3 linked regions of the Homo sapiens genome follow. The protein of the gene in region 1 purifies or fractionates together with the protein of each later gene. This does not show direct contact. Each region holds a gene or a part of one and is shown in the gene's direction. Other genes may lie near its edges.

Evidence for each region. The genes of interacting proteins can lie anywhere in the genome.
Region 2: the proteins of KDELR1 (region 1) and TAX1BP1 purify together in Homo sapiens (affinity purification with mass spectrometry; 2 studies listed by BioGRID and IntAct, with this or other methods). This does not show direct contact.
Region 3: the proteins of KDELR1 (region 1) and NPLOC4 purify together in Homo sapiens (affinity purification with mass spectrometry; 2 studies listed by BioGRID and IntAct, with this or other methods). This does not show direct contact.

What each region holds. Positions count from the first base shown.
Region 1 is NC_000019.10:48,388,547-48,396,323, reverse strand, and holds the start of KDELR1 (ER lumen protein-retaining receptor 1), read left to right. Parts: upstream 1-4,772; 5' UTR 4,773-4,965; coding exon 4,966-5,056; intron 5,057-5,799; coding exon 5,800-5,900; intron 5,901-6,612; coding exon 6,613-6,771; intron 6,772-7,777. UniProt on the Homo sapiens protein: Receptor for the C-terminal sequence motif K-D-E-L that is present on endoplasmic reticulum resident proteins and that mediates their recycling from the Golgi back to the endoplasmic reticulum.
Region 2 is NC_000007.14:27,785,157-27,792,179, forward strand, and holds part of TAX1BP1 (tax1-binding protein 1), read left to right. Parts: intron 1-6; coding exon 7-155; intron 156-242; coding exon 243-333; intron 334-2,261; coding exon 2,262-2,447; intron 2,448-6,849; coding exon 6,850-7,023.
Region 3 is NC_000017.11:81,606,095-81,613,117, reverse strand, and holds part of NPLOC4 (nuclear protein localization protein 4 homolog), read left to right. Parts: intron 1-2,859; coding exon 2,860-2,908; intron 2,909-4,295; coding exon 4,296-4,390; intron 4,391-6,303; coding exon 6,304-6,427; intron 6,428-7,023. UniProt on the Homo sapiens protein: The ternary complex containing UFD1, VCP and NPLOC4 binds ubiquitinated proteins and is necessary for the export of misfolded proteins from the ER to the cytoplasm, where they are degraded by the proteasome.

The sequences.
Region 1 (7,777 bases):
CAGGGATTAGGGAGAGCAGCCTCCCCCACTCCAGGGCCTGAGGAGGGGCATCCCCAGTCCTCCAGGACTCTGAAGGCCCAACCCCCAGAACCCACGCCCTCAGGGATCACAGAGTCCAGCCTCTGGACAACCCCCCGCTCCCCCCGCCTCCATCTCTACCTCCTCATGAGCCTCCGTTTCCACTTCCATCTGCATAGGGCTAAAGTCCCCAACACTCATCTCCTGCCCTGTCAGGGACTCAGGAGACTGAGCTCCCAGCCTGCCTTCCTCAGACGGAAGCGCTATCCCCTACCTCCTCCCGTAAAGACCCAGGAGTCCTTCTGGCAGCCCCTTCCTCCCCCAGGCCTTGGGAGTCTGGGCATTCGGTCCTGTTCTTTCCCAGGACCCAGGAGGCCAGGCCCCTCCTGCCCCAAGACTCTGGAACTCCAGTGCCCAGCCTCCTCTCCCTGCAGGAACCAAGAGTCCAGGTCCCCAGCTCCCCTCTTCCCCCAAGGACCCAGGAGTCCGGGTTCCGGCTCCTGTCCTCCCTTAAGGATCCCCTTTTGGTTTCAAACCCTATCCTTCCCAACATCCTGGGTGCCCCCCCACCGAGCTCTGGCCTCCCTAGTCACCCCACTTAGATCCTGTACATAGCACAGCCTGTCCCCAAGCGGGGAGGAGGAGGAGGGTGCCAGAAATTCCTAGGGTGTCCCTGTCTTCATTGCCCCCCACAGCATCCAACAGAGAAGAGAGGAGCGGCCACTTCGATCAACAGCTCCCCCCACAACCTCGAGTTGTGCTGCAGACGGCATCCCGTTTCCTCCCCCCTCACCTCCCAACACACACACACAACATCGGTCTCTCCCCACCCGAATCCTGATGCTTGGAAGAGGCTGGAAGGGTGTTCCAGAACCTTGAGGAAGGGGTGGGAGCTTGGGGCGAGGGGTGCTGGGGGCCTGGATGCCCTCAAGGTCCTTGGCGGGGGTATTAATAGCAGACTCATAGCTCTGACATGGGAGGGGAGAGCGAGAGGAGAGAGGGAGAGGACCGGCTCGCGATGGGGGGACTGATGCAGGGAGGGGGGTACAGGGAGAAGGTGAGATAGAGAGATGGAGGCACAGGGATATGGGGCATCAGGTATGTGGGGATGGGGAGAGGGAGCCAAGTGTCAGAGAAATGGGGGCGTGAAAGGTCTGAGGTGTAGGGACTCAGGAAAAAGGGGCTCAGAGAGGGAGAGAGAGAGGGTGGAGGAGAGTCCCTGAGGGACAGGGGAGCTAGGTGGGGGTCAAGACCCCTGCCCACCGTTCAAACCCCCTCCCTCCACGAGGCTTCTTGCCAACTTCCTCTGTCCTAGATTTGGGGGTCCACATTCCCACCACCATCCCTGCATCCCCTGTCCCCGCCTTACCTTTTCATGACCCTGTTCTGTTGGGGGGATGGCGGGGGGGCCAGGACCGGAACCCGGCGTCCAGCGACCCCAAGATTCCGAGGAGGGCTCAGAGAGCCGATGTCGGGGGGCAGGCCCCGGGGCGGCGGCAGTGGTGGTGGCGGCAGCAGCGGCAGCCCGGACCTCCTGTCTGTCCCTGGCTCCGTCTCTCCTTCCTCTTCCTTGGTCCTGTCCTGCCCTGTCTCTCCCCCAAGGTTGCGGCCACCTGGACTAGGCGAGGACGTGGCTACACATGTTGCTCTGGAAGTTGGGCCCCGGACATTGCAGAGGCTGTCGGGGTGTCCTCTTGCCGCCCCGACCCCGTGGGGATCCCCCCTCCGCCCACCCGGGGTGCCCCCCTCTGCCGCTTCAGCCCCGGCTCCTCCCCCCTTTCCATGTGTCCAGTCCCGCCTCTCCCTGGCTCACTCGCACCCCCGCTTTGTGCCCTCAGCCCCCCCACCCCCCCTTCCAGCGTCTGTGTCTATCTGTCTGTCTGGGTCACCTCTGAAGCTAGTGGCTGGTGTGTGCGTGTGAGGAGCGGGAGATTGCCTGCTTGGGGAACTGCTTGCCCCTTCCTCGCTTGGCCACCTCTAGACCCCCCCTTGACTCCCCCACTCTCAAACACAGGCAGAAACACACATACACTCACGCACACACGCACGATCTCACTTCCCTGGGATTCCCCCTCAACACCCCCAGAGCTTGAGGAGGGACACACACACAGACACACACACACAGAGTGGGGGGTCTAATGGGGGCCAGGCTGCCACTGCTGATAGGGGCTGTTTGGACAGACAGGAGGACACAGGCAGCCGGGGACGCCCAGACGCCTGGCCGGACGCAGGCAGGAGGCACAGAACCCAGGTACACACCATCCATCTGGGTTTGGGGGGGCCGGGGGGAAGGAGCGGGAGCCCCACGACACCCAGGCAGGCAGCTCAGGGTCGGTACAGACAGACAGACCCCTCCCTCCCTCCGCCGCCGCAGCGCTTACAGACACACCCCCCCTCCACCAGCCAGCCCCAGACACCCGGACACACAGATCCTCACCGGGCAGATGGCAGACGCTCGAGAGACCCCTGGGGGCCGGGCCGACCTACCCAGGCAACACCCCCAGCAGGCACCGGTGGCCGAGGGAGGCTGCGGGAGGCTGCGGGCGAGGGTGGCGGCGGCGGCCGCGGCTTGGAGGAGCTGGAGCGGGAGGGACTCACACACTCGCTGTGTTCTCGCACACACACACTCACTCGGGATGCGATTAACATTCAGTCCCCGTCTGCCACTGCCGGGAGACCCACAGCCCCCCCTCCTGGCCTCCCTGGGGACCCCTTCTCCTGCCAGGCTTGGGGAGGGGGCCGCCCCCCACCCCTAGCTACCAGCCTCTGCCTTCCTCCTGGGACAAGGGAGTGAGGGGCTGAAAATAAAAAGGGAGGAAGAAGTCAGGCTGGGGACAGGCAGGCAGGGACTCAGAACCCGGTATGGAGACACCAGCTTCAGAGCTAGACTCCAGGGCTGGGGGTTGCTGCCCTCTGCCCCCGCCCTGCCTTGAGGCTCTGGAAACAGGAGGCCTTTCCCTGACTTCAGTGTTCGCCACACTAAGACCCAAGCTGTGGCTTTTATTGCCCCAGAAGGCCAGGCCTGAAAACCAGGTCTCGACCCTGGTCCCAGGAGTCCCACCCCCCAGCCCCTCCTCCCTCAGACCCAGGAGTCCCCTTCTCTACTGGGACCCAGGAATTTGGGGACCGCCTCCAAGTCGGAGTCTCTTTTAAGGACTCAGTCATCCCGACTCTCCCCCGTACAAGCCACCCTCAGGGACCCAAGACTCGTGGATGTCACCCTTGGGCACCCCGTCCTTCCAGCCCTCTGAAGAAATCAACACGCCTGCACCCCTTCTTTTATTGAGGGACCCTGGCCTCCATCATCTGTGGGTACCCCATCATCCGGAAGGGAAGCCACGTCTGTCCCCTCATAGATGCAGGAGTCCAGACCACAGGCTGTTCCCCGGGGGTCCCACACCCAGATGCCCAGCATTCCCCTCCTGCTAGAGGGCTGGGCCCGGCACTTTTATAAAGCCACCCGTGGGGCTCTGGGGTAGAGCGTGGGGCAGGACACCGGGGCCTCTGAGGGTGGAAGAGGGTGTGTGTGTGTGGGCAGGGCAGAAACTCTGGAGCAGGGGGGAAGCCAGGGCCAGGGGCTCCTGAGGTAGTTTGGGTCAGAGTTTTGGCCTTGAGCCTCCTGGGTGAGGCTCCTGTTTCCTTCATCCTCAAGGTCTGGGAGAACAGGGTGAGGTGCACATTCCTGAAAAAGAAGAGAATCAGGGCCTAAATCTGTGGGTCGTAAAGGGAGAAACTGTAGATCTAGATTCTTAAGGTTAGGATGTTTGATCCATAAGATGGTGGGGGTGGGACCCTAAGTTCCAAGGAACAGCGTCCTAGGAGGGAAAAGGGCTGGGGCCCTGAACTCCTGGGTCTGAGGGAGGAGGGGCTGGGGCCCTGGACCCCTGGGTCTGAGGGAGGAGGGGCTGGGGCCCTGGACCCCTGGGTCTGAGGGAGGAGGGGCTGGGGCCCTGGACCCCTGGGTCTGAGGGAGGAGGGGCTGGGGATCTGGACTCCTGGGTCTGAGGGAGGAGGTGCTGGGGGTCTGGACTCCTGGGTCTGAGGGAGGAAGGGCTGGGGGCCTGGACTCCTGGATCTGGGGGAGGAGGGTCTGGGGGCCTGGAGTCCTGGGTCTGAGGGAGGAGGCTGGGGGCCTGGACTCCTGGGTCTGAGGGAGGAGGCTGGGGGCCTGGACTCCTGGGTCTGAGCGAGGAGGAGCTGGGCCTGGACTCCTGGATCTGAGGGAGGAGGGGCTGGGGGTCTGGACTTCTGGGTCTGAGGGAGGAGAGGCTGGGGGTCTGGACTCCTGGGTCTGAGGGAGGAGGGGCTGGGGACCCAGACTTCTGGGTTTGACGAACGGGCTGGGGCCTTGAGTCCTGGGTCTAGGGGAGGAAGTAGGTGGGGTATCTTTCTTGTCTTCTGGGGGATTGGAGTTAGAGTGCCTGAAAGCTGCAAAAGCTAGCAGCTGAGCCTCCGGGTCCCTGCAGGATTTTTCAAGCTCAGAGGGCAGTCTCTACATCCCTGCAAGGGCTGAGGCTGGTGTACTGGACTGCGTCTCTTCCAGAGACACAGACTGCCTGGGCGAACCGGTGCTGGATTTGGCACTTTCCGAACCCTGCGACCCTCCCAAGTTCCTATGGGGCAGCTTTGGGGGTGCGTTTAGCGCCGCCACGGCAAAGCAGGAGGTGGGCGATAGGGGGCGCCGGGGATCCAGGCCCCGCCCTCGGGGGCGGAGCCTCTCCTCCCGGACTCCTCCCCCTCTCGCTCTCCTCCCTCTTCCCGGCTCCAGCTCCGCCGCCAGCTCCAGCCTTTGCTCCCCCTCCCAAAGTCCCCTCCCCGGAGCGGAGCGCACCTAGGGTCCCTCTTCCGTCCCCCCAGCCCAGCTACCCGTTCAGACCAGCAGCCTCGGGGGGCACCCCCCCGCCAGCCTGCCTCCCTCCCGCTCAGCCCTGCCAGGGTTCCCCAGCCATGAATCTCTTCCGATTCCTGGGAGACCTCTCCCACCTCCTCGCCATCATCTTGCTACTGCTCAAAATCTGGAAGTCCCGCTCGTGCGCCGGTGAGAGGCCCACCAGGGCTGGCGAAGGAGAGAGATTGCGGGCGGGGGTTGGGGGACGTCGCAGGACTCAGGAAGGGTTTGGGGGCACTAGGGGCACAGGTTCCACCCCCACTGCTTGCTGGGGATCTCTCTTCTAGGTTCTGGGTCTCCAGGGGATCAGCTCCCTTCCCCAGACTGGCGGGGGTGCATACAGTTTCATGTGAATGGCTTTAGGCCCCCAATTCAGCCACCCCCAGCCCCAATCTGGGCAGCCCGAGGGTTCATGGACCGGGAACAGGGAACCATGGCAGGCGGGGAGGTGGCTGTGAGTTGGTGACGTGGACCGTGGCGGCCAGGAAGGGAACGGGAGGGAGGTGACCGGATCCGGGGCCTGAGGTCAGGGAAGGTCCTCCCTAGGCCTCACCTCAGGTCCAGACTGCGGGAGGACCCTGAGGGGCCAGGGGTAGCCATGAGGCCTAGTCTGGGACGGAGCCTCGGGCTGGAGTAGCTTCGGGGGCCTGGGCTGCCCCCTGGCTGTGGTCCGTGGGAAAGGGCCCTGCTCAGGCGGGGCGGGCTGGGGAGGCCTCCGGGGACAGCTGCACTCCAGAGCTGCCTCCAGGCTGGTCCCGGGCGCCCTGCCTTAGTTTATTGCCCATGCAGCCCACCCCCAGCTTCCTCTCTCCTTCTGTCTGTCTGTCTGTCTGTCTGTCTCTCTCTCTCTCTCTGTCTCTCTCTCTCTCTCTTTCTCTGTCTCTGGACCACAGGAATTTCAGGGAAGAGCCAGGTCCTGTTTGCTGTGGTGTTCACTGCCCGATATCTGGACCTCTTCACCAACTACATCTCACTCTACAACACGTGTATGAAGGTAGAGGCTCCACCCCACCTCTCTGGCCCCCACTGAGGCAGAGGAGCCGGGTGTGGGTCCCAGACTCCTAGGTCTGAGGGAGGAGGGGCTGGGGGCCTGGACTCCTGGGTCTGAGGGAGGAGGGGCCGGGGGCCTGGACTCTTGGGTCTGAGGGAAGAAGGGACTGAGGCCTGGACTCCTGGGTCTGAGGGAGGAGGGGTTGGGGGTCTGGACTCCTGGGTCTGAGGGAGGAGGGGCCGGGGGCCTGGACTTTTGGGTCTGAGGGAGGAAGGGACTGGGGCCTGGACTCCTGGGTCTGAGGGAGGAGGGGCTGGGCCTGGACTCTTGGGTCTGAGGGAGGAGGGGCTGGGCCTGGACTCCTGGATCTGAGGGAGGAGGGAATGGGGCCCTGGACTCCTGGGTCTGAGGGAGGAGGGGCTGGGGGCCTGGACTCCAGGGTCTGAGGGAGGAGGGGTTGGGGGCCTGGACTCCTGGGTCTGAGGGAGGAGGGGCTGGGGGCTTGGACTCCTGGATCTGAGGGAGGAGGGGTTGGGGGCCTGGACTCCTGGGTCTGAGGGAGGAGGGGCTGGGGGCTTGGACTCCTGGGTCTGAGGGAGGAGGGGTTGGGGGTCTGGACTCCTGCGTCTGAGGGAGGGGCCTGGACTCCGGGCTCTGAGCCTACTGGGGCACAGGCCTGTGAGTTGAGGCCCCTTCTCATCATCCCCCTCCTCAGGTGGTCTACATAGCCTGCTCCTTCACCACGGTCTGGTTGATTTATAGCAAGTTCAAAGCTACTTACGATGGGAACCATGACACGTTCAGAGTGGAGTTCCTGGTCGTTCCCACAGCCATTCTGGCGTTCCTGGTCAATCATGACTTCACCCCTCTGGAGGTAGGCGCCTTGCTGTGACTCCTTATTTGGGGGGATGGTTGTGGCAGAGTAGCTATGACAGGAGACCCTCTCACAGGCTTCCTTCTGCAGGGTGTGCCCAAACTGCCTTATTTTAGGATGCATAAGTTCAGTGCATGGGCTCTGGGGTCAGAGGAAATTAACACAACAGCAGCAAGACTCGCTATGTGTCAGTCACTACCCTAAGCATTTCACCTACTTACTTTTCTCAGCAGCCCCACTTTACAGATGAGGAAACTGAGGCTTAGGGATTCTTTTTTTTCTGGAGACAAAGTCTCGCTCTGTTGCCCAGACTGGAGTGCAGTGGCATGATCTCGGCTCACTGCAACCCCCGCCTCCCAGGTTCAAGCAATTATCCTACCTCAGCCTCCCGAGTAGTTGGGAAGACAGGTGCACATCACCATGCTCTGCTAATTTTTGTATTTTTAGTCCAGACAGGGTTTCACATGTTGACCAGGCTGGTCTTGAACTCCTGGGCTCAAATAATCTGCCTGTCTTGGCCTCCCAAAGTGCTGGGATTACAGGCGTGAGCCACCATTCCTGGCCCAGCCTTCTTGAATTTGAATTCCAAATCTGCTAGTTTCTTTTTTCTTTCTTTCTTTCCTTCTTTCTTTCTTTCTTTCCTTTCTTCCTTTCTTCCTTCCTTTCTTTCTTCCTTCCTTCCTTTCTTTCTTCCTTTCCTTCTTCCTTTCCTCCTTCCTTTCTTCCTTTCCTCCTTCCTTCCTTCCTTTCTTTCTCTTTCTTTCCTTTCTTTCTTTCTTCCTTTCTTTCCTTTCTTTCTTCTTTCCTTCCTTTCTTCCTTTCTTCCTTTTCTTCCTTTTCTTCCTTTCTTTCTTTTTTCCTTTCTCTTTCGACAAAGTCTCGCTCGGTTGCCCAGACTGGAGGCAGTGGCATGATTCTGGCTCACTGCAACCTCCACCTCCCAGGTTCAAGCGATTCTCCTGCCTCAGCCTCCCGAGTAGCTGAGATTGCAGATGCCCACCACCAA
Region 2 (7,023 bases), on another chromosome or scaffold:
TCTCAGGGTCTTACTGAAGTAACACAAAGCTTAAAAATGGAAAATGAAGAGTTTAAGAAGAGGTTCAGTGATGCTACATCCAAAGCCCATCAGCTTGAGGAAGATATTGTGTCAGTAACACATAAAGCAATTGAAAAAGAAACCGAATTAGACAGGTATTTCTCATGCTTTTAAAAAATAAATTCAATAAAAATTTTAAAACTTTAAAACATTATAATGTTACTTTATCATACCTATCTTAGTTTAAAGGACAAACTCAAGAAGGCACAACATGAAAGAGAACAACTTGAATGTCAGTTGAAGACAGAGAAGGATGAAAAGGAACTTTATAAGGTAATTTATTTTTTACCATATCTATTGCCTGTTGCTTCAAAAGAAATGACCCCAGAACTTAGGGGCTGTAGGTCAGCAATTTAGGAGCAGCTTAGCTGAGTGGTTCTGGCTCTAGCCTCTTGTGTAGTTGCAGTCAGGATGTTGGCAAGGGGTGCAGTCAGCTAAGGGCTTGATTGGGACTGGAGGGTTTGCTTTCAAGATGGCTTACTCCAGTGGCTTTTGGCAGGAGAACCTTCAGCTCCTCTTGAAGTGGTCTTTTCATAGGCTGCTTGAATATCCTCACAGCATGGCAGCTAGCTTCTCTCAGAGTGAGTGATCCAGGAGAGAGCAAGGAGGAAGTCACAGTCATGTTGTATATCACCCCTAAAAGTTAGTTTTCAGGGAATTAATTTGCTGCTGTTTTAGATACTTAACAGGTAGTGTGTAATAAGTTGAAGAGGTTTAATGGAATTAAGATACTTGTTTATCACAATTCATGTAACTATTTTTCCTTTTTAAGAACATATATATATATACACATTGGGGAGAACATTAATTTAGTAATAATCCCATTTTAGAGTTTGACTTTTAGAATATCTTCAGAGATGTCATTTTGTAAAAATATCCTCACTGCTAACAAATCTTGACCGCTTGAAGTTTTGAATTTTTTTTTTTTTTTTTGAGATGGAGTCTCGCTCTGTCGCCCAGGCTGAAGTGCAGTGGTGCGATCTCGGCCCACTGCAAGCTCTGCCTCTCGGGTTCACGCCATTCTCCTGCCTCAGCCTCCCGAGGACCTGGGACTACAGGTGCCCGCGACCACGTCCGGCTAATTTTTTGTATTTTTTTAGTAGAGACGAGGTTTCACCATGTTAGCCAGGATGGTCTCGATCTCCTGACCCGCCTCAGCCTCCCAAAGTGCTGGGATTACAGGCGTGAGCCGCCGTGCCTGGCAGTTTTTATTTATTTATTTTTTTAAGCAACCCTGAAATATAGGGTAGTTAGCTTAATTGTCAGTAATGCTGTGGGTGCAAATTGAGACTTATTTTTTTAAGTGGCTCATAAGCATTTCCTGAAGGCAATTCCAGATGAGGAATTTCAAGAACATTCTGAGTTAAGTCCGTTTCTTGTTAAGTCAATTTAATGAGCTGATGATTATGAACATCAGGTAGCGTTTTAAAGTGATGCTGCAAGGGTGTTGGTTGCTGATGTCTTCAGAGAATCAGGAGTTAATATTCTATCCTTGTGAACAGGAATTAGTCCTTCAGCATTCTGTATATTTAAAGAGTAAAGTGCAAGAAGTAAGTTAATTCATTTCTCCTCAGTACTCTTAACGAAAGCAGGATATACTTGATAGTGTACACTACAGGTCTGTATTTATAATTCCAGTTATTGAATTTGATTTGTATGTGTGTTAGGAGCAAATCAGCAATAGCGAGAGTCATGGGAAAATCAATATAGTTGGGTTAGTCAACAAATACATTTTTCAGCACATTGAAACTAAATGATATCGTACTTTTCGCCTGCAGAAAATGGAATTGTTTGAGATGTTGTTTTTGAATGCACCCCTTCTAGTTTTCCAGAGTCTTGTCGTGCCAGATTTGAATATGCCAAATAACATAATTTGTTTCCCCAAAAGAACAACCAAATCTATTTGCATTTTTAAAGAGAACCTGAAACCATTAAATCAAAGGAAAAGACTTTAGAGATCAGGTGATGTTGTTAGGGCTTAGAATAATCTCTCTGGAAAATAAAAAAGCTTAGAAAAGCTGTGTTCTGCTCCTGCATGCTTAACTAGTCATTTGGCAGAACCTGGGTCTCCTAAATCCTAGTCTAGTATGTCTTTCCTTCCTTTCGTTGTCTTTGGGTTAGAAATATAATGGTATTTTAAACTTTGACTAACTTAGGTCATGGAGTTAGAATATTCTTGACATTTTCAAACACCATTACAGGTACATTTGAAGAATACAGAAATAGAAAATACCAAGCTTATGTCAGAGGTCCAGACTTTAAAAAATTTAGATGGGAACAAAGAAAGCGTGATTACTCATTTCAAAGAAGAGATTGGCAGGCTGCAGTTATGTTTGGCTGAAAAGGAAAATCTGCAAAGAACTTTCCTGCTTACAACCTCAAGTAAAGTAAGTACTTTTGCTATATATATTTGAAGATTGTAAAACATACCTATGAAATGTATGCAATATGATTTTCATTTTTAATTCCCCCAAGCTTTTGTTCTAAAAAAGTTCAAACTTACAAAACAGTTGGAAGAACAGAACAATGAATACTGATGTACCCTAAAATATTTTGCCATTCTTTGTTTTATCTCCCTCATTTATATGCCTTTTTTTCTGAGCGATGTGAGTTGCAAGTATTACGATAATTTACTCTAAATACTTTAGCATGTCTCCCTTATGAACAAGTGCATTCTTCTTCATAGCCATGACACCGTTATTACACCTAAGAATTTAGCACTGATTGAATAACAGTCATTCTCATAGTTAGTTCACAATCACATTGCCCCAAATGTATTCTTATATAATCTTTAAAATTTTGTGATTCACAGTTAGTCAAAGACTACATATTATTTTGATTGTTGTATTTTGAGTCGGTTTCAGTCTAGAATAGTGTCCCTACACTTTTTATGACATTGATATTTTTGGAGAAGACAGGCTAGTCTGAGAAAATGTTCTATAATCTGGATTTGTCTGTTGTTTCTCATGACTAGATTCAGGTGAGACATTTTTGCAAGAAAAGACATAGATGATGTTTTGTCCATCCTGTTGGAGTCATATCAAAAGTTATATAATGTCAATTTGTTTCGTTCTTGATAATGTTAGGTTTAATAATTTGTTTAAAGTTATGCCTACCTGTCTCTATATAGGTGCCTTTCTTTTCTTTCCCTGTTTGTGATTATTAAGCAATCTGTATAAACACCCTGTTCTCCAACAGCCTTTCCTCAATGTTTTTATTGTCCTTTGATGCTCCTCACCTGCATCAGCTATTATGTTGGTAATAATTAATGATAGAAAAATGGTGATTTAAAAAATTCTATTATGCCTTCTACATTTATTTGTAGGTAATCTTTTATCATGAGGACATTCCTGTCACCCTTCCCTCTTTTTTAAATATAACTTTGGACTTACTGATTTTTTGCTGCATATTATGCATAATCATCATTATTCTTTTTCATACCCAAATTGTTCTGAATTTAACCAGGGGAACCTTTTCAAGCCTGCTTTTTTGTCCTGATATGTTCCTATAATGCTTTGAATACTTTCTTGCTTTATGGCACAACTGTATGTTCTAACTTCAGGTTGTTCCCCCAGACCTGATATTACCATTTCTCCAAGAAACTCTGTTTTTTTTAGTAGGTAATGGTATTTTGAAACCAAGAACTGGATCCTATTGCTACTATGGGGCTGCTGCTTTGCACATTCAGTGGGTATTTTGCATCTTTAATTTATATTGATAGCTCCAATTCAGATTTAGTACCTTAGGATTCTTCCTTCCTTTGCTCCATTCCATATTTATATCTCTCTTCTCGCAATGTGAGAACTCTTGTTTCCCAAACATCATTATTACTCATGTGTTTCCATCCAGCCGTACACACCAGTGTTTTCACAATTATTACATCAATGCCACTTCCAACAATAAATGTACTAAATAAAGCTAAGGTATTTTTACAGCTCTTTTTTCTTAGAATATGTTTCACTAAGGATGTATAGAAACGCCATGTTCAAAAGTTACTTGAACTATTTTTTTGCATACCTATGTTATAAATTTGTAATATAATTTCATTTGCTTGTATTTAATTTTAATATTTGCTTTTATTCTTCTGTTTGATTTATTTTTATTGTTTGAATATGTAAAACAGTTGCTTTGTTCAGAAGTCAAAATGATAGAAAAATTTTACTCTGAGGTCTCAATCTCTTCCTTGTTTTTTTAAACCCTTTTCTTACCTATGCCCATAGATAAACATTTTCATAAGTTTCTAGTTTATTCTTATGTTTCTTTTTGTAAAAATAAGCTTATATATGCATGTGTACATGTACATACATCCTTCTTTATCCTCTTCGTTCTTAAAAAAGGTAGCGCTACTATACATACCATTTTGCACCTTTTTCTCACTGAACAAAATAAGTTGCTAGTTACTCCATATCAGTTTGTAGAGATCTTCCTCATTTGAAAAAAATGGCCACATAATATTCCATTATATAGATTTACCTTGATTGATTCATTATTTCTTATGATGTTATTTTTAGTAATTTGCTATTAAAAATACTCAGACATAGTTAATGTAATACCTAAAACGTCAGAAGCGCATGACATTTAGAATTAATGGTTAATCCTTGTTACTTTTTAATGTAACAGATTGCCAGTGCAAACATGAGAAGTGTATTTGATTATTTGTTATTTAATAAGATGCTAAAAATTTCTCTAAGCATCTTTTTCCTATTTAAGCAAGACTTCTGTGAGGAAAAGCGTAGTTATGGAAGTACCTGAGAAAAATGACTACTAGTTGCTAAAGCTTTTAAAAGATTGTGAAAGTAGTTTGAGGTGATGGTTATAAAAAAATTTAAACAGTACATGAGGATACAAAGTAAAATGTAATCCTCATCCCTTCTCAGATAAGTAAGTTATTATTGAATTTATGAATATACGTATATTTATATTTTAACACAAATTAGAATTTATACATTTTTTCCTTTTAAAAAAATTTATAAATGGATATCTTGCACTATGATACACATGTGGATCTTTTTCATTCATCATAACAACTGCCTAGTATTTCTTCTCTTCATTTAACAACTGTGTAGTATATGTTTTTTGATTGTTTTTGATTGTTTATAGTCTTCAGCTTTTATAAGCATCCTGCAGTAAACATCCTTATAGCAATATGTAGGCACATTTATAATCCGTAGAATAAGTTCTTTCAAGTGGAATTACTGGGTCAATGAGTATTTAAATTTTGATAGTTATTTTCAAATTACCTTTCAAAAAAATGTTCTATTGATTTTTTTATTCCCACCAAGAGTATATGAGATATGTATTGTTTGTAATGTCTGCACAGACTTTGATTATATAGAGGTAGTATATCATAGTTTATCATAAATTCTCATGTTGGTAGACATTTTAGGTTCTTAATGATTTTTCATTATTTTAGTATTTTATTGAATCCTTGTAAAGCTAAACCTATGTCTATACCCTTTGATAATTTTCTTGGAAACTTATGGAAATAAAATTGCTAGATCAAAAGCTGTGAGAATTTTTAAGGTGCTGATGAATGTTGTAAATATCTGATGAGAAAAGATGCCAGTTACAGTTTATATAAGCCCACCTGTTTGTGAATGTGCCAGTTGCCCTAAACCCATGCAAATATTGGAATGTTACTGTTTTTTTGATCTTTGTTAGTTTGAAAGGTGAATGGCATTTGTTTTAACTTATTTGTTTGATTGTTGGTGAGTTGAATTTTTTTACTGCATAATCGCATTTATTTCTTTAGAAAATTTTGTATGTTCATGACTTTTGACTTTTGTTTTGTTTCTCCTTATTGACTAGAAAAGTTATTTATATCAAGTATTATTATACCTTTCTTGAATATATTACATATAATTTTCTTCTAGTTCTTTTTCTTCTCCTTTGACATATAGAAGTTGGCGATCTTTTTATAGGTAGATCTATTAGTGTGATGCCTCCGAAGATTTTGTCCATGCCAACACTGCATAAAATCATCATTTACATTTCCTTCTAAGGGGCTAACAGTTTAGAAACCAATATTGGGTTGCATTTTTTTCCTGATTTTACATTATTTTTAGTACAGAGATTAAAAACAGGAAGTTGAATAAACTAAATTTATTGTGTTTATAATGTTTAAATGTTATAATGTTTAAACATTAATATTAAAGGAAATAATTTCACCATGGCAATTTTAGCTTTTTAAAGATACTTTTAGGTTTGTCAAGCAGTATGAATTACTTTTCATTTTCCCAATGCCTCGTCTTTACTATTTGTATATCAATATTTTGTTTTTAGAACTAAGGCCTAAATCTGTTCTGTGTTTTTATAATGATATGAAATAGATTTATATTATATTGGATGTCTCTTGGGGTAGAAAGTAGGAAACATCTTTTAACCAAAATTTTTGGTGTTACAAAGAAGCTTTCGGAATGATTTTTACTGGTAGTCATACAAAATGAGGGTCAGTATTTCTAGCTGAAGAGATTCTGGGGGATGGGATCTTTTGTTTGAGCCTCAGTTTGGGCAGGTCCTTAAGCACTGGGTATGTTGCCTGACTCGCTGTACTTTAGCTTCCTTGTGTATAAAGTAGTAGCAGTGAAACCAAGTACATAGGGTTGTTATAGAGGGAACCTAAAACAAAGTTACTTCTTAAGTTTTTTGTAGGCATATACTCTGTAAGTCATGAGTAGAAAAACCAATATCTAAAATTTTGGCCCTGTTGAAATATGTGCGAAAATTGTTTCTGCTTCTGTTTTTTACTTGAGTGGTTGAATTACAAATATATTTATCTGCTTTCTTCAGGAAGATACTTGTTTTTTAAAGGAGCAACTTCGTAAAGCAGAGGAACAGGTTCAGGCAACTCGGCAAGAAGTTGTCTTTCTGGCTAAAGAACTCAGTGATGCTGTCAACGTACGAGACAGAACGATGGCAGACCTGCATACTGCACGCTTGGAAAACGAGAAAGTGAAAAAGCAG
Region 3 (7,023 bases), on another chromosome or scaffold:
CAGTTTCCACCTCAAAATATGTTCCCATAAAAAATTTTGAAGCATTTGGGTACAAAGAGACTGGAAAGGTATTGGGGGAGTTGGGGGCCTCACACCAAGTCTTTACTGTGATGTCCCCTGGAGATGCTGATTCCCGTGCAGAGTGGGGTGTTAATCAGCAGCTGCAGGGGAGGGAGGAGGGAAGGGGCAGGTGGTTGTGTGTGCGCATCCATGTGAGGTGAGTGCTGTGTCTCTCATTTCATAGCGGTTGGATGATTTTGACCTGCCACACTAGTGTGCGCTCTCCATCCCTGCAGCAAGCATTTCACTTGCAGAAGATGCTGTGCCTTGGAATATTCCCTCCTCACCTGGGGCTATATGAAGTGCTTATGCATATGTACATTGTTTATTTTAGATTTTTTGCAATTCCTTTTAAATAAACCAGTGAGAAGGATCTGAGTTTATACTTGGCCATGTGAAATTGTCTGAGCGAAGGTTGTCTCTGCAGTGGGGTCTTTTTTAAAATGCATCACTCTGTAGATGTGACGGGGTGCTGACTTTGCGGTATTGGGATTCCAAATGCTGCATTAGCAACTTTTATGTCTTAGATCAGAGAGCCATAAATGGTGCTCTCCTGCCATTGGCATGGAGCCACTTTGTAGCCATAGCCATTAGCCGGCATGCCTCTTCCATTTGTGTCTCCTCCCAGGGGCCTGGCACTGGCTTGCTTGCATGATCTGTGTCTTCATGGCTTCATTAGCAGCTTTTGAGAGCGTGTGTGTGTGAGAGAATTCTGAGCCATCATCACTTAGATCCTGCCTATTAGGAAGCACAGAGGCCACCTCTGTTCCGCAGCACAGGGCTCATACGCATGTAAGAATTCTGACCCCACTTAGAAAGGGGTCTGACTGAGCCCCGGAGGGACGGCCGCCGGCGCCCTCGTAAACCAGCATACCTCTCCTTCAGATTGTGCGTGTTGTGCTCCCAAGGCTTCTGTGACTGAAAATGTTAGAAAGCCGTGGGACAAGGTTTTTTCATTGTTGTTATTTCCCAAAATGCATATGAAGTAGGTATTTTCCAAACTTGGATTATTTATGCACCGCTCTCAGGCCCTTTGCCATGTTCACGTACCAGCTTTGTTATTATTTATTTAACACTTTTCTTTTTTTTTTTTTTTTTGAGATGGACTCTCGCTCTGTCACCCAGGCTGGAGTGCAGTGGCGCGACGTCCGCTCACTGCCAGCTGCGTCCCCCCGGTTCACGCCATTCTCCTGCCTCAGCCTCCCAAGTAGCTGGGACTACAGGCGCCCGCCACCACGCCTGGCTAATTTTTTTGTATTTTTAGTAAAGACGGGGTTTCACCGTGTTTGCCAGGATGGTCTCTATCTCCTGACTTGTGATCCACCCGCCTCGGCCTCCCAAAGTGCTGGGATTACAGGGCGCAAGCCACCACACCTGGCCTATTTAACACTTTTCTTTAAATGGACTTGGCCAGGCGCAGTTGCTCACACCTGTAATCCCAGCACTTTGGGAGGCTGAGGCAGGTGGATCACCTGAGGTCAGGAGTTTGAGACCAGCCTGACCAATATGGTGAAATCCCGTCTCTACTAAAAATACAAAAATTAGCCAGGCATGGTGGTGTGCACCTGTAGTCCCAGCTACTTGGGAGGCTGAGACAGGAGAATCGCTTGAAACGAGGAGGCGGAGGTTGCATGGAGCCGAGATCATACCTCTGCACTCCAGCCTGGGTGACAGAGTGAAACTCCGTCTCAGAAAAAAAGAAAACAAAAAAAAAACTATTTTATTTATTTATTTATTTGAGTGGAATTTCACTCTCGTCTCCCAGGCTGGAGTGCAGTGGCACAATCTCAGCTCATCGCAACCTTTGCCTCCCAGGTTCAAGCAATTCTCCTGCCTCAGCCTCCCTGGTTCCTGGCATTACAGGTGCTTGCCACCACGTCCGGCTAATTTTTGTATTTTTAGTAGAGATGGGGTTTCACCATGTTGGCCAGGCTTGTCTTTAACTCCTGACCTCAGGTGATCCACCCATCTCAGCCTCCCAAAGTGTTGGGATTAGAGGTGTGAGCCACTGCCTTTGGCCAATAAACTACTTACATTGACTTTGAGTTCATTCACTTTTATCTTTGGTTTGTGTCATTTTTTTTTTTTTTTTTTTTTTTGAGACGGAGTCTCGCTCTGTCGCCCAGGCCGGACTGCGGACTGCAGTGGCGCAATCTCGGCTCACTGCAAGCTCCGCTTCCCGGGTTCACGCCATTCTCCTGCCTCAGCCTCCCGAGTAGCTGGGACTACAGGCGCCCGCCACCGCGCCCGGCTAATTTTTTGTATTTTTAGTAGAGACGGGGTTTCACCTTGTTAGCCAGGATGGTCTCGATCTCCTGACCTCATGATCCACCCGCCTCGGCCTCCCAAAGTGCTGGGATTACAGGCGTGAGCCACCGCGCCCGGCCTGGTTTGTGTCATTTTAAGCAGTGGATACCCATGAAGTCACAGGTTTGATGTGCGGGTCAGTTTTTTCTAATTCATATCAACATAAGTAGTAAACTTCTGGGTGTGGTGGTGTACACCTGGAGTCCCAGATACTCGGGGAGGCTGAGGTGGGAGTGCTTGAGCCCAGGAGGTGAAGGCTGCAGGGAGCCACGATCACCACTGCACTCCAGCCTGGGCGATAGAGTGAGAGCCTGTCTTTAAACAAAACAAAACAACAATTAAAATATAAATGTTTATCCATGTGCCATCTGGAATATAACTCCACGTGGGCAGGGAAACACTCTGTTAAAGTAGGACGTGCATGTGAGACAGCAGCAGCGGAACACAGACATCCTCACTGCTCTGCCTTTTTCTGCCTTGTACTCTCCTCAGATGCCGCCACGGCCCTTTGGGGAAATGCGTGCACTGCGTCCCTCTAGAGGTGAGAGTCTCTGCGGAGTAAGTTCTGGGCCAGTGTGGGGGGCTGCGGGTAGACAGCTGTCTTAAGTGCTTGCCCTGAGTCCACGCACTTGGCTGTAGTGAGTGGTTCAAAGAACTTACCTATTTATTGCCCTGGGCCTCATATTCCCCTAGTGCAAGCTGCACACAGGACGAGCCTTTATTTATGGGAGTGACCTTCTCGCTGGATTATGAATGGCTGAAGCATTTGTGTGGCTGTGATAAAGGGGCAGCATTTACAGCGGGCTCCCTGGACAATCCTTTTCCGATCTGACACAAAGCTGAGCCTGTCGGCCTCCGTGCTTATCATTGTTGATTTACTTTGCCTTGAATCTCACATCTCTTCTACTGGTTTGTCCTGGTGAGACTGAGAGTTACCGTAATAATGCCGACTGGAACTGTTAATGCTGGGTTTACAGCAGGAAGGCCAGCCCGATTTTCTTCATGAGGCATCTCTTGCCTCATCTTGTGGCATTTCTTTTTGCACAATTTTCCTGAAACTCATTTGACTTAGAGCGTTTTGTGTTTAATAGAGATTCATTTTAATCTTGAAAAGATAACTGGCACACAAAGAAAAACTTGCTTCTGGCTATGTGCAGTGACGCCTGTAGTCCCGACACTTTGGGAGGCCAGGGCCAGAGGATCATTTGAGCCTAGGAATTGTTCAGCCTGGGCAACTCTTTTTTTGTATACCCTGTCTCTACAAAAAATTTAAAAAATTAGCTGGGTGTGGTGGTTCACGCCTGTAGTCCCAGCTACTCAGGAAGCTGAGGCAAGAGAATCACTTGAGGTCGAGGCTGCAGTGAGCCATGATTGCACCACCATACTCCAACCTGGGCAACAGCATGAGACCCCATCTCTAAAACAGTTAAATTGGCCAGACTCAGTGGCTCACGCCTGTAAAGCTAACACTTTGGGAGGCCAAGGCGGGTGGATCATGAGGTCAGGAGTTTGAGACCAGCCTGGCCAATATGCTGAAACCCCGTCTCCACTAAAAATACAAAAATAAGCTGGGCGTGGTGGCGTGCACCTGTAGTCCTAGCTACTTGGGAGGCAGAGGCAGAAGAGTTGCTTGAACCCAGAGGTGGAGGTTGTAGTGAGCAGAGACTGTGCCACTGTGCCACTGCACTCCAGCCTGGGCGACAGAGTGAGACTCCGTCTCAAAACAAACAAACAAAAAACAATTAATTAAAAAAAGAAAAACTTGGTTCTGACTCAGAGTGGTAAGGGAGACCCTAGTACCTGCTTTCACTGTGGGCCTTGACTTGCCAAGGCCATGCTGCTGGCCTCCCCCTGTGCGTAGCAGAGGCTCAGCGCCTGGAGTGACCGGCACGTGTGAGACTGCACTCGCTTACTCTGTGTCTTGGCAGCCATTCGATGAGGACTATCTAAACCATCTCGAGCCTCCCGTGAAGCACATGTCCTTCCACGCCTACATCCGGAAGCTGACTGGAGGGGCTGACAAGTAAGCAACTTGCTGTAACCTGGTTGTGCGTAAATTCCTTTTTGTGTAGCTGGCAGTTGTTGCTTATAGCCAGTGAACGTGTGAATGAGAGAAGTAAAGATGAGAAGGGGTCACACGCCTTTGAAAGTTACCGTGGTTCTATATTTATTTATTTATTTTTTATGTACTCATATATGTTTTTAAGAGATGGGGTCTCACTATGTTGCCCAGGCTGGTCTAGAACTCCTTGGCTCAAGTGATCCTCCTGCCTTGGTTTCCCCAAAGTGCTGGATTACAGGTGTGAGCCACCTCGCCTGGCCAACCTGGTTCTAGAAGGGAGCTAGCAAGGCAGAGCGACTGTGCAGGCGCCTGGCTGCGTGGCCACAGTGCAGTATCAGACAGAGGCTGTCCCCACACACACCACCCCAGCAAGTTAGCATCTGTGATGGTGGCCTGTTGATTCTGTGGTCTGAGTTCATTCTCTGCTTTTCAGAAAAACAACTACCCTGTGAGAATCTCAGCTTCCCCACCTCAGTGCCTGGTAACCCTTTCCCCAGAGCCTGGCCTCTGAGTCAGCTTGGTTTTCAGCCACAGCAGGGGCTGCAGCCACTAATCCTCATGGTACCACAGTAGTTGCCCACAGGCTCAGCCAGGTGGGCAGAGGTGGTAACAGTGGCCAGAAAGGGGTGAACTGAGCATTTTGATTTCTTTTAAGCCATGGCAAGCCCTTGCCTGTATGACCTTCTCCTGTTGGCTCTCTGTACACCCTACCAGAAAGTAGCAGGCTTCAGCTATTATTTTATAATTCCTGTCAGTGCAACGAGGAGATGGTGGCTGAACTGAAGTCAGCAACATTTTGTGAAGGATGTCATATTCGCCTGATTGTAGCTTTTCTCTGACAACCTGCTGACATCCTAAAATGACTTTTTAAAAATGTTAGACCAGAAGAAAAAACCTGCTAGAAACCCACTGTTGCTTGTCAGTGGGGAAAGCTGTGGAACTCTCTGGACTAAGGAGTGGGTGCAGATTGATTGTAGTGAAAGAGACTTGGTCAGCCTTTCTCAGTCTAGGTCAAGGAACACAGTCTCTAGTGGGGGCGTGTTTGTGGCTGCTGTTAGCATGCAGATTCAGTGACGAGTCTTTGCTTCCTAGATGCTATGATACCAAAAATGGCTCACCACCAAAAATGATCAGTATGTGAGGTAATGCATATGTTAATTAGCTCAATTTAGCCGTTCCACAGTGTGGACATGTTTCAGAATATCATTTCGTACACTGTAAATATATCGTTTTTATTTGAAAAACAAAACCTCACGTCTACCTTAAAGATACAGATTTCTTTTTTTTTTTTTTTTGTCAGTTATATTTCAATAAAGCTGGAGAAAAAGAAAAAGTTCAGAGTAGGGTCCAGGATTTTCTCATTGACAGTCTTCAACAGTAGTTTTTATTTTAGCCTAAAGCAGAGTAAAGATGCCTTAATTATATATCCTAATCAGATTTTTCCCATGAATAAGAATTTTTTACAAATATCTAAGTACTGGGCTAATGTCAAAGTTTCTGACAATTTAATGAAACCTGTAGGAGCCTCATGCCCGCTCAGTGGCACAGGTGAGATCAGTAGATATTCTACAGTATTCTTGAAAGCTTTCTCGGATGTTAGTGATAGATGGTAAAAAACACCACAGTTTGGTAGGAAAGTAGTTGTGTGTTCCTGTATGGTTGAAGTATGTGGGACAGAAGCTGGGATTCGGAATGTGCTGGAACTGTAGGTAGAGCTTCCATTAGAATCATCCTTAGCCCATCTTCCCTGCTGCTGCCACGTGCTTAGCTCCTGAGACACTGTTCAGGAGGTATAAGATACTTAGCATGTCATTTCCAGCCTCTTGCTCAACTTTTCACCAATGTGATGTTTAAGTTGCTTCTCTTCTATGTAGGGGGAAGTTTGTTGCCCTGGAGAACATCAGCTGCAAGATTAAGTCAGGGTGCGAGGGGCACCTCCCGTGGCCGAATGGCATCTGTACTAAGTGCCAGCCGAGCGCCATCACGCTGAACAGACAGGTGAGATGTTCCCTGTCTGTCTAGATTTGTTTTCATGGCTGAGAAACGGATATTTCCAGAAGAGCCCCTTGGAGTGGAATGCTATTAGCACTATGCGTGGTGGATTTTCAGTACTTTTTGATGGACTGAATGATCCTTTTGTGGAAGTGGTACACTGAATATATCATTTTTAAGGCTTCTTGCTCTTGGAGATATGGAGTGCGCGCCCTCAGTTCTCTGTTTTGCTGGCTCATATGGAGGCAGAATGTTCCTGATGATTATTTAAAATCCTCAGTGGTTGTGAGGAAACTGGCTCTGAAGGTTGGTAAAGGGGCACCCCTTGGACCAGCTCTGAGCACCTGTCCAGGCTGGCTTAAGGAGAGAATGTGGCTCAGGAAGGAGGGAGCGTTCCGGCCTTTCTGGATGTTCTGCTGTCCTTGTCCCGCCTCTGAGTAGCCTGCCTCGCCTTCCTCCTGCCGCTGTGCCCTTAGAGAAAACGGCTCCTTAGAGAGAATTCCGTGGCCTCCTCGACTTTTTTGGAAACCTCCTATTCTCTATTCCTTTTTTCTTCTTGAAAACTACTTTATTTTGGCCGGGCAAGGTGGCTCACACCTGTA